2 linked regions of the Homo sapiens genome follow. The protein of the gene in region 1 purifies or fractionates together with the protein of each later gene. This does not show direct contact. Each region holds a gene or a part of one and is shown in the gene's direction. Other genes may lie near its edges.

Region 1 (4,820 bases):
ACTACAATTACCCACCATTTGTATGTATGTGTGTATGTATAGTGAGGACACTTAAAAAATATATTCTTCACAAATTTCAAGTAAACAGTTTTATTAACTATAACTATTAATGAACACAATCTTATTAACTATAGTCATTATACTGTACATTAGATCCCCAGAACTTATCCATCTTATAAATACAACAAAAATTCCTTAGAGACTTTGAAGTTTAGGAAACTGAGAAGGGGCCTTTCTTCTAGGCTGTTGGTCACCTGGTTAAATCCAATCCATAGACAGAGCAAAATTGGAAAGAAATTAAAATTCACCTTATTAGTTTTAATGTACCACATCCTTATCGAAATGATTTTCTCAAAGATTCCTCTAATGTACCAAAAATAAAGTATGTATTAATATAGCATTTCATGATTGTATTCAAAAACTATTACCATGGCTTAAGAACTATCTTGTTTAGTAGTTCTGTGTTATATATAAAGAATTCCTTCTTTCTTTTCAAGGCACAAGCTGCAGATAAAATCCATTCATCCTTCCGCTCTCTCAGCTCTGCAATCAATGCATCCACAGGGAATTATTTACTGGAAAGTGTCAATAAGCTGTTTGGTGAGAAGTCTGCGAGCTTCCGGGAAGTAAGTGAAACCTGTAATTGAAATGGCTGGATCCCAAACAAGTAATGAAGTCACTTTCAAAGCAGTTCTCTACAATTCAACAGTTCATAAAAGCAGAGTTGGAATTCCACACCAGCTCCCTAGGGCTGGCCTTGCGTAACAGCTGCCCTTCCTGTACCCTCTGGGGCTTCCTCCTCTTCCCATTGCAAATGTCCCAATCTCAGAGTCATAAATCAGGAAAACAAATGCAACTGTTTTCCAGAGACACTATCCCCCAAGTCAAACCTCTTTCCTTTTATTCTGTCTCTATAATGCAAGGAGTACAAGAGGGTGGATAGAGTTGGGGAGTAAGCGTGGACAAAGGGGTCTGCACTCTTTCCCCCTTCAGCACCTGCCTTCCATAGCCAACCTCCACTCCCACCCTACCCCAGGTCTCCTAATTTCAATGGGAAGACCATAATTCACCATTATGCCATGGCTTGTTTGGTATGTATTTTATGTAGCCTTTGTCATTTTCTTGCTTTAAAGGAATATATTCGACTCTGTCAGAAATATTACTCCTCAGAACCCCAGGCAGTAGACTTCCTAGAATGTGCAGAAGAAGCTAGAAAAAAGATTAATTCCTGGGTCAAGACTCAAACCAAAGGTAAATCCAAGAAAATATTTTATTTACTTCTTTCCAGTTAGAAAACTCTGATCTATCTTTTTCCATCCATGAACTTAGTTAGCCCTCACCCCTTTACAATTTGTCCAACTGCAGTTACTTTGGTGGATGTGAATTTATTCCTGATTAGCTCAGTGGTGTTTTAACTGAGAAGAAATAATTGAGGCCTACTAATAGAAGACATATGTTTAGTACTTAAATATTTGATTTTGGATATTGCTTGAGGATAGAATATGAAAGGAGGCAGAAGCTTTCAAAATAGGAAATATCAGCATTGAAATAATTGTGAGTCTATGCCCACTGTGGACAAAAAGAAAACAAGGCTTGACCCTGAGCTTAGTAAATGGTGTGAGCTATAAAGAATACAGGCAGTGGAGGAGGGAAGAATCATAAAATTATTTTCACTCTTTCTTCTCTTTCACCATTCAAAGCCAATCCATTGTCAAGTTTTTTTGGTCTCTGCTTCATCCCTCCTTGATTATCTAAGTCACGTCTACCATTTTAACTCATGCTTTTAATTGTTTCACAGGCTCCTGCCTCCCTCTGTATATTTTACAATGAATAAATTATTTAATTGAATCATTTATTCATTGTAATTTAGTTTATTAAGTCATTTATTCATTGAATTCATTCATTCATTAAGTTCTATTAAGTTCATTCACTTAGTCAACAAATATTTATCCACCACACACCATATTCCAGAAACTATATGTGGAGATAAAGATAAAAATGGTAAATCCTGCCACCATAGAGCCTATAGAGGAGGGATTCAGTCATGTTGGCAATTGCTATAGAGTAGTAGTCAGTGCTTTCATTGAGAAGTACAGGTGCTATGTGGGAGTACACAGGAAAGGCATCTGACTGGATTTAAAAATGATTAAATTGTAATTGGGAAGACAGGCTGGAGCTGGCCAGGTGGAGGGTGCATGCCTGGGGGGAGATTTCCAGACAGAGTGCACAGAATATGCAAAGGTCCAGAGGTAACCCTAAGGAGAAGAATAGAGTCTGGTCTGACTGCAGTGTGGAGGGCCAAGGGAAGGAGGTGAAATTAAAGAGGTGATGCAGTACACTTATTATGCTATTCCCACACTAAAAACTGTCAGTGACCTCCTACTGTCCTCAGGAGAAGGTCTCATTCTTTACCTTGACTTCTGAGTTCTCAGTAATCCAGTTGACTGTGCTTGGCTACCACTGGCCCTTGGAGCTCCTTAAACACTCATTGCTGCCTCTAGACTTTGTTTCTGAGGATGCCTCAACTACAGGATTTAAGTTGCAGTTTAAATTGCAGCCAAAGTCTTACTCTTTCCTGGAAGTGACTCCCAATTACTTCCTGATCTTTTCTTCTTCTCATCTCCTCATCTGCTTTTTCAGCTTCACAAGTCACATTAGTGTTAGCCATATATGGCCTTAAACAATTATGGAACTGATTTTTGTTAGTTTGTTTTGCTTTTCCTCTCAGGCTCTAATTATTTTTGGGTAGGTCCAGTATGTCACACTTATCCTATGCCCCCACAAAAATTTGCACAGTTTTTTGCTGACAGTGAAAATCCTTCATTCTTCTGAATTTCCAGGTAGAGTTGTAGGCCTTAAGTAAACAATTGCTGAATAATAACATATAAATGTATTTCTAAGAAACAGAGATGATTATGAATTCAGAATTGTGTAAGTATTTCATTCATTTATGATCTGTTAGGATTGAAAATGTCCTAAGAGAGCTCCTATCCATCTTACCAATTTGTGGTTGGAGCATCCTGTTCCCAGGGGATTAGCCGGCTCCCCTAAGATCCCACTGGTAGCGGTAAAGCCAGGGTTGCTTCTTCTTCTGATCCTTAGTCTAACTCCAGAATTCCTCAATCGGATGTTTAAAAATTTTATAACTTATTTTTTTAAGGATTTTCATTTAACTCTTATGTTTAAGACATTGTTTCAAGAAATAGTTTGGTGTCTTGCTTTATTAATTACCACAATGGAAAATGCACATAAACTAAGTGCTATGGGATTTCAAAAAATATATATTTATTTGTTTATCTGAAAATAATTGATTTCCTTTTAGTTCTTCATTTTCATTGTGGATTTGTGAAATACTGTTCTAAAATATTGACAGACCACTGACACAAAGGAAGCAGAGAAAGATGATTTAAATCAAAAGTTCAAGTAAAAATGGAGAGCAAAATTAAAGAGACACATGGAAGTTTTGCCTTCTTTAAAGAATGGCATGAATTGTTTTTCTCTTTAGACATTGTGCTAAATGGCTGTAAGTCAATCAGTTATTTTGCCAAAATGCCAAGCAGCTATTTTGGCAGATTGTTTTACCAGCTTTTGTAAGAATTGGAGAGAATTGTCTGTTTCATCATGCTATGATCAAATACTAGTTTTATCATATACATCACAACATTACTATACCCCAATACTAACCAAAAATTTTAATAGCTTGGGAAATATATTGAATGTATATATTAAATGAATACATTGAAGATGAAACTGATGCAAGGCAGGCAAGCTCCAAAGTGGGGCTTAGCCTTCAAGGGTTCTTGGCTTCACCCAGGAAAGTATTCAAGGGTGAGCTGGAGGTAGGGTAGAAGAAAACAGCTTTATTGAAGTGGCAGTATTACAGCTCCATGATTCCTCCTGCAGAGAAGGGCTACCCCAGGCACTGTGCTGAGAGGCACAGCTCAGGGCAGTTTGGGGGTCATATTTATACCTACTTTTAATTACATGTAGATTAAGGGGCAGTTTACGCAGAAATTTCTAGGGAACGGGGAATAACTTTTGGGTCATCAGGTCATTGCCACAGAAAGAGGTGGTAACTCCAAGGTGTTGCCATCACAATGGTAAACTGACATGGTACACTGCTTCCATCCTGTCCCTGGTCCCCATTTTAGCTAGCCCTCAATTTGGCCTGGTGTCTAAAACCTGCCTCCAGAGTCAGGTCCCACCTCCTACTTCAAAACCACATTGACCTATTAATTTGTTAAGAGTCTTGTATTTGTCAGTAGTTTTGACTGTGGAGGCAGAATTTTTACAAGCTTACCAGCATTGTAACGTTGGGAAGACTGCTAACCTGGTGGTGTCCTTTTGCATAAAATGACACTAATAAAACCCACCTAATAGAGTATCAAAATAATATATTTTGATGCTTGGAATACTGCAGAGCGAGTACTAACTATAAACAAACTGCTTCTTAAACCAATTTCATTTTTTTAAATGACCACACTCATTTGTCATTGTTTCTGTCAATCTTCTCGGGCTTACTCCTTCACTCCCTTCTCTGTATGATCATAGTACTCAATATATTATTTAGCTCAATTACAGAAGTTATCACACAGGGTTTCACAACTGATTTTGAATGTCTCCCCCAGTGTTCTAGGCTCATCCAGGATAATTCTTCCTTTCTCATCTCTTGTATCTGCACTACTCTTAATTTAGGTCTAGTATATTTTTTACAAAACGTTTTTGAATAAATGAGTAAGTCAGATCCTCAGACTATCTAGACCAGATCTAGCAGTACATGATATATTTTGGAAAGGCACTATTATATTCCCTAAGAACCT
Region 2 (4,315 bases), on another chromosome or scaffold:
AACTTTTGGCTCAGAGATCTTGGAGGCAATCTTGCAGATGAATGACAAATGGGTTGCTGTTAATGCTGAATGTTTATGTCTAAATGACTAGTTATTACCTACCCTCCTGCTCTTTTTTCATTATATTTTTTACCTGATTGGGAACAAGGCAAGCAACCTTCTTGGGAAAGAGAAAGTGAAGTTTTGCGTTGAAGTCGAATGATGAGGAGATAGAACTCTCTGAGGCAGAGGGTCGTGGGTGGGGGCTGAGGGAGTGGACACCAGCAGACCTAGGCGAGGTTAAGACTTGATGTTTAGAGATTCTGGAGAGGATGTGGAGAAATAGGAACGCTTTTACACTGTTGGTGGGAGTGTAAATTAGTTCAACCATTGTGGAAGACAGTGTGGCGATTCCTTAAGGATCTAGAACTAGAATTACCATTTGACCCAGCAATCCCATTACTGGTTATATACCTAAAGGATTATAAATCATGCTACTATAAAGACACATGCACATGTATGTTTATTGTGGCACTATTCACAATAGCAAAGACTTGGAACCAACCCAAATGTCCATCAGTGATAGACTGGATTAAGAAAATGTGGCACATATACACCATGGAATACTATGCAGCCATAAAAAAGGATGAGTTCATGTCCTTTGCAGGGACATGGTTGAAGCTGGAAACCATCACTCCCAGCAAACTATCACAAGGACAGAAAACCAAACACTGCATGTTCTCACTCATAGGTGGGAATTGATCAGTGAGAACACTTGGACACAGGGCGGGGAACATCACACACCGGGGCCTGTCGGGGGTTGGGGGACGGGGGGAGGGATAGCATTAGGAGAAATACCTAATGTAAATGATGAGTTGATGGGTGCAGCACACCAACATGGCACATGTATACCTATGCATCAAACCTGCACATTGTGCACATGTGCCCTAGAACTTAAAGTATAATAATAATAAAAAAAAAGAATTTGAAATAAAATTGTCTTTTTATTATATGCAAAAAAAAAAAAAAGAGACTTGATGTTTGGGTGGTTCTCCTCCCCTTGGGTTTTCTGACCTTCACCTGGTTCCTGAGGCCACAGCCACAGTCTGTTTGTTTTGCAGTGTTTAGCCCTCCAGGCCCAAATCACAGCTCTCACCAAGCAAAATGAACAGCACATCAAGGAACTAGAGAAGAACAAGTCCCAGATGTCTGGGGTTGAAGCTGCTGCATCTGACCCCTCAGAGAAGGTGAGCTGGTATTTCAAATGAGAAGCAAGCCATTTATATCAAGCATTCAGAAAGAACATGGCCAGTATGTTGTGTTAATAGCTCTTTTTCTAACTTTAGTGATGTTTTACTTGTCTGATGACTTTAAAATGAACCAGATTTGGTGTTTGTTTGTTTGAGACGGAGTCTCACTTTGTCACCAGGCTAGAGTGCAGTGATGTGATCTTGGCTCACTGCAACCTCCGCCTCCCAGGTTCAAGCGATTCTCCTGCCGCAGCCGCCTGAGTAGCTGGGACTACAGGCACGCGCCACCACACCCAGCTAATTTTTGTATTTTTAGTAGAGACAGGGTTTCACCATGTTGGCCAGGATGGTCTCGGTCTCTTGACCTTGTGATCCGCCTGCCTCAGCCTCCCAAAGTGCTGGGATTACAGGCATGAGCCACCATGCCCGGCCCAGATTTGGTTCTTGAGTTTAAGGAGCTTACAGCCTAGTGGGAAAACAAACAAATACATACTTACATATTAAGTGGCAAACCCAAAAGAACCCTATCTTTCTGAGGTTTTGACAGGTATAGGAAGGGCCTCTAACCACAGAAGAAGAATGGGGCTTGGGGAGTGTGCCCAGCATCCACTGGCCTCTGACCCTTAGAGCCTATGGCAGCTCCTAGTGGTGCTCACAGTGGGAGGGGGACATCAAGAAATGGTCTTTAAGCAGTCTTGGGCACACAGACCACAGCTTGCCTGCCCTTGATAGGTAACTCTCATGACTAGCCCTTCTGTCAAAGTGCTGCTCATTATTTAATATCATCCTCTCCACAGTGACAGCCTTCAGTGTCTCTGCTTATGACCAGCAGTATCCCAGTGTAGAGATCTAAGATGGCTTCATTTTGGCCTTCCATACACCTCTCTGGAATTTAATGCATCCTTTAGTGACTTGATTTTGACAGCATGTGTTTTGATGTTCACACAGGTCAAGAAGATCATGAACCAGGTGTTCCAGTCCTTACGGAGAGAGTTTGAGCTGGAGGAATCTTACAATGGCAGGACCATTCTGGGAACCATCATGAATACGATCAAGGTACAGCCAGCCAGCTGTCATTTGTTTCATCGTATTGGGCATTTTGTTGCTTAAGTACCTTCTAAGGGATCATGAATAAAAAATTGTTCAAAGCTGGCACAGTGGCTTATGCTTGTAATCCCAGCATTTTGGGAGGCCAAGGTGGGAGGACTGCTTGAGGCCAGGAGCTTGAGACCAGCTTGGGCAACATAATGAGACTTTGTCTCTACTAAAATTAAAAATTTAAAAATTAGCCGGGTATGGTGGCACGTGCCTGTAGTCCCAGCTACTTGGGAGGCTGAGGCAGGAGAATCACTTGAGCCCAGGAGTTCAAGACTACAGTGAGCCATGATTGCCCCCAACTGCACTCCAGCCTGGATAACAGAGCAAGACCCTGTCTCCAAAGAAAAAAAAAAGAAAATTATTCAGGACTGTTCCTCAGTAATTAGGATGCCTGGAGTGACTTGACAGATATAGTCAGCCTCTTTTAACAGGAAAGAAGCAAAGTCATTTAAACTACATGACCAGTAGTGTTAATAAGAATTAGGAGTGGCTACTGTGTTCCTTTCAGTGACCATCTCTTCCTTGGCTTTTGAATAGATGGTGACTCTTCAGCTGTTAAACCAACAGGAGCAAGAGAAGGAAGAGAGCAGCAGTGAAGAAGAAGAAGAAAAAGCAGAAGAGCGGCCACGAAGACCTTCCCAGGAGCAGTCAGCCTCAGCCAGTTCTGGGCAGCCTCAAGCACCCCTGAATAGGGAGAGGCCAGAGTCCCCCATGGTGCCCTCAGAGCAGGTGGTCGAGGAAGCTGTCCCGTTGCCTCCTCAGGCCCTCACCACTTCCCAGGATGGACACAGAAGGAAAGGGGACTCAGAAGCTGAGGCACTCTCAGAGATAAAAGATGGTTCCCTTCCACCCGAACTGTCTTGCATCCCATCCCACAGAGTTCTAGGGCCCCCGACTTCAATTCCACCTGAGCCCCTAGGCCCTGTATCCATGGACTCTGAGTGTGAGGAGTCACTTGCTGCCAGCCCAATGGCAGCTAAGCCCGACAACCCATCAGGAAAGGTCTGTGTCAGGGAAGTAGCACCAGATGGCCCACTACAAGAAAGCTCCACAAGACTGTCCCTGACTTCAGACCCCGAGGAGGGGGACCCACTGGCCTTAGGGCCTGAAAGCCCAGGAGAGCCTCAGCCTCCACAGCTCAAGAAAGATGATGTCACTAGCTCCACCGGTCCCCACAAGGAGCTGTCAAGCACAGAGGCAGGTTCCACAGTTGCAGGAGCAGCCCTCAGACCCAGCCATCATTCCCAGCGTTCCAGGTATGTTCCTCTGAGCACTGCTTCAGGGACAGGGTAGTTATCTGTGGTGAGTGTCTCTGTTTTTTCCAGGGCTGGCAACTCATCCCTCAGAGACTAATTTACTCATGTCTTCATTCATTAGTTGATGTATTAATTCAACAACACCTACCATGTACAAGGCTCTGTGGCGGGCCCTACAGTAGTGTGGCGGGCCCTGTGGTAGTGTGGCGGGCCCTGCGGTAGTGTGGCGGGCACTGTGGTAGTGTGGTGGGCCCTGTGATAGTGTGGTAGGCAAGGCAGGTTTGGTTCTTGAGTTTAAGGAGTGACAGTCAAGTGGAGAAAACAAATACATACTTACATATCATAAAGTATGATAAGTCCTTTTAAAAAAGAAACAGGGTGCTATTCTAAAGGAGTTGTTCCACTTTAGATAGGGTGGCTAGGGAAGGATTCTGAGAAGGTCACATTGAAAAGATGACTCTGGCTGTAGGTTCTGGAGGGGGCCAACCGCACTAGGAGGCCACTGTAGGGTGTGGGAAGAGATGGTGGCAGCGGAGGTGGGAGGAATTCCTGAGCAGTCACCAACGCTGTTGAATTCTTACCCAAGGGCCGGTGACCCTTGTAGGTGGTGGGTACTGTGACCTGGAGCAGGAACAATAACATTTTCTATGACTTGATTTTCCTTCAGTCTCTCTGGGGATGAAGAGGATGAACTGTTTAAAGGGGCAACTCTGAAAGCTCTGAGGCCCAAAG

What was found.
Region 2: the proteins of SERPINB2 (region 1) and FKBP15 purify together in Homo sapiens (affinity purification with mass spectrometry; 2 studies listed by BioGRID and IntAct, with this or other methods). This does not show direct contact.

What each region holds. Positions count from the first base shown.
Region 1 is NC_000018.10:63,896,594-63,901,413, forward strand, and holds part of SERPINB2 (plasminogen activator inhibitor 2), read left to right. Parts: intron 1-497; coding exon 498-626; intron 627-1,133; coding exon 1,134-1,251; intron 1,252-4,820. UniProt on the Homo sapiens protein: Inhibits urokinase-type plasminogen activator. The monocyte derived PAI-2 is distinct from the endothelial cell-derived PAI-1.
Region 2 is NC_000009.12:113,168,492-113,172,806, reverse strand, and holds part of FKBP15 (FK506-binding protein 15), read left to right. Parts: intron 1-1,100; coding exon 1,101-1,226; intron 1,227-2,177; coding exon 2,178-2,285; intron 2,286-2,864; coding exon 2,865-3,583; intron 3,584-4,250; coding exon 4,251-4,315. UniProt on the Homo sapiens protein: May be involved in the cytoskeletal organization of neuronal growth cones. Seems to be inactive as a PPIase. Involved in the transport of early endosomes at the level of transition between microfilament-based and microtubule-based movement.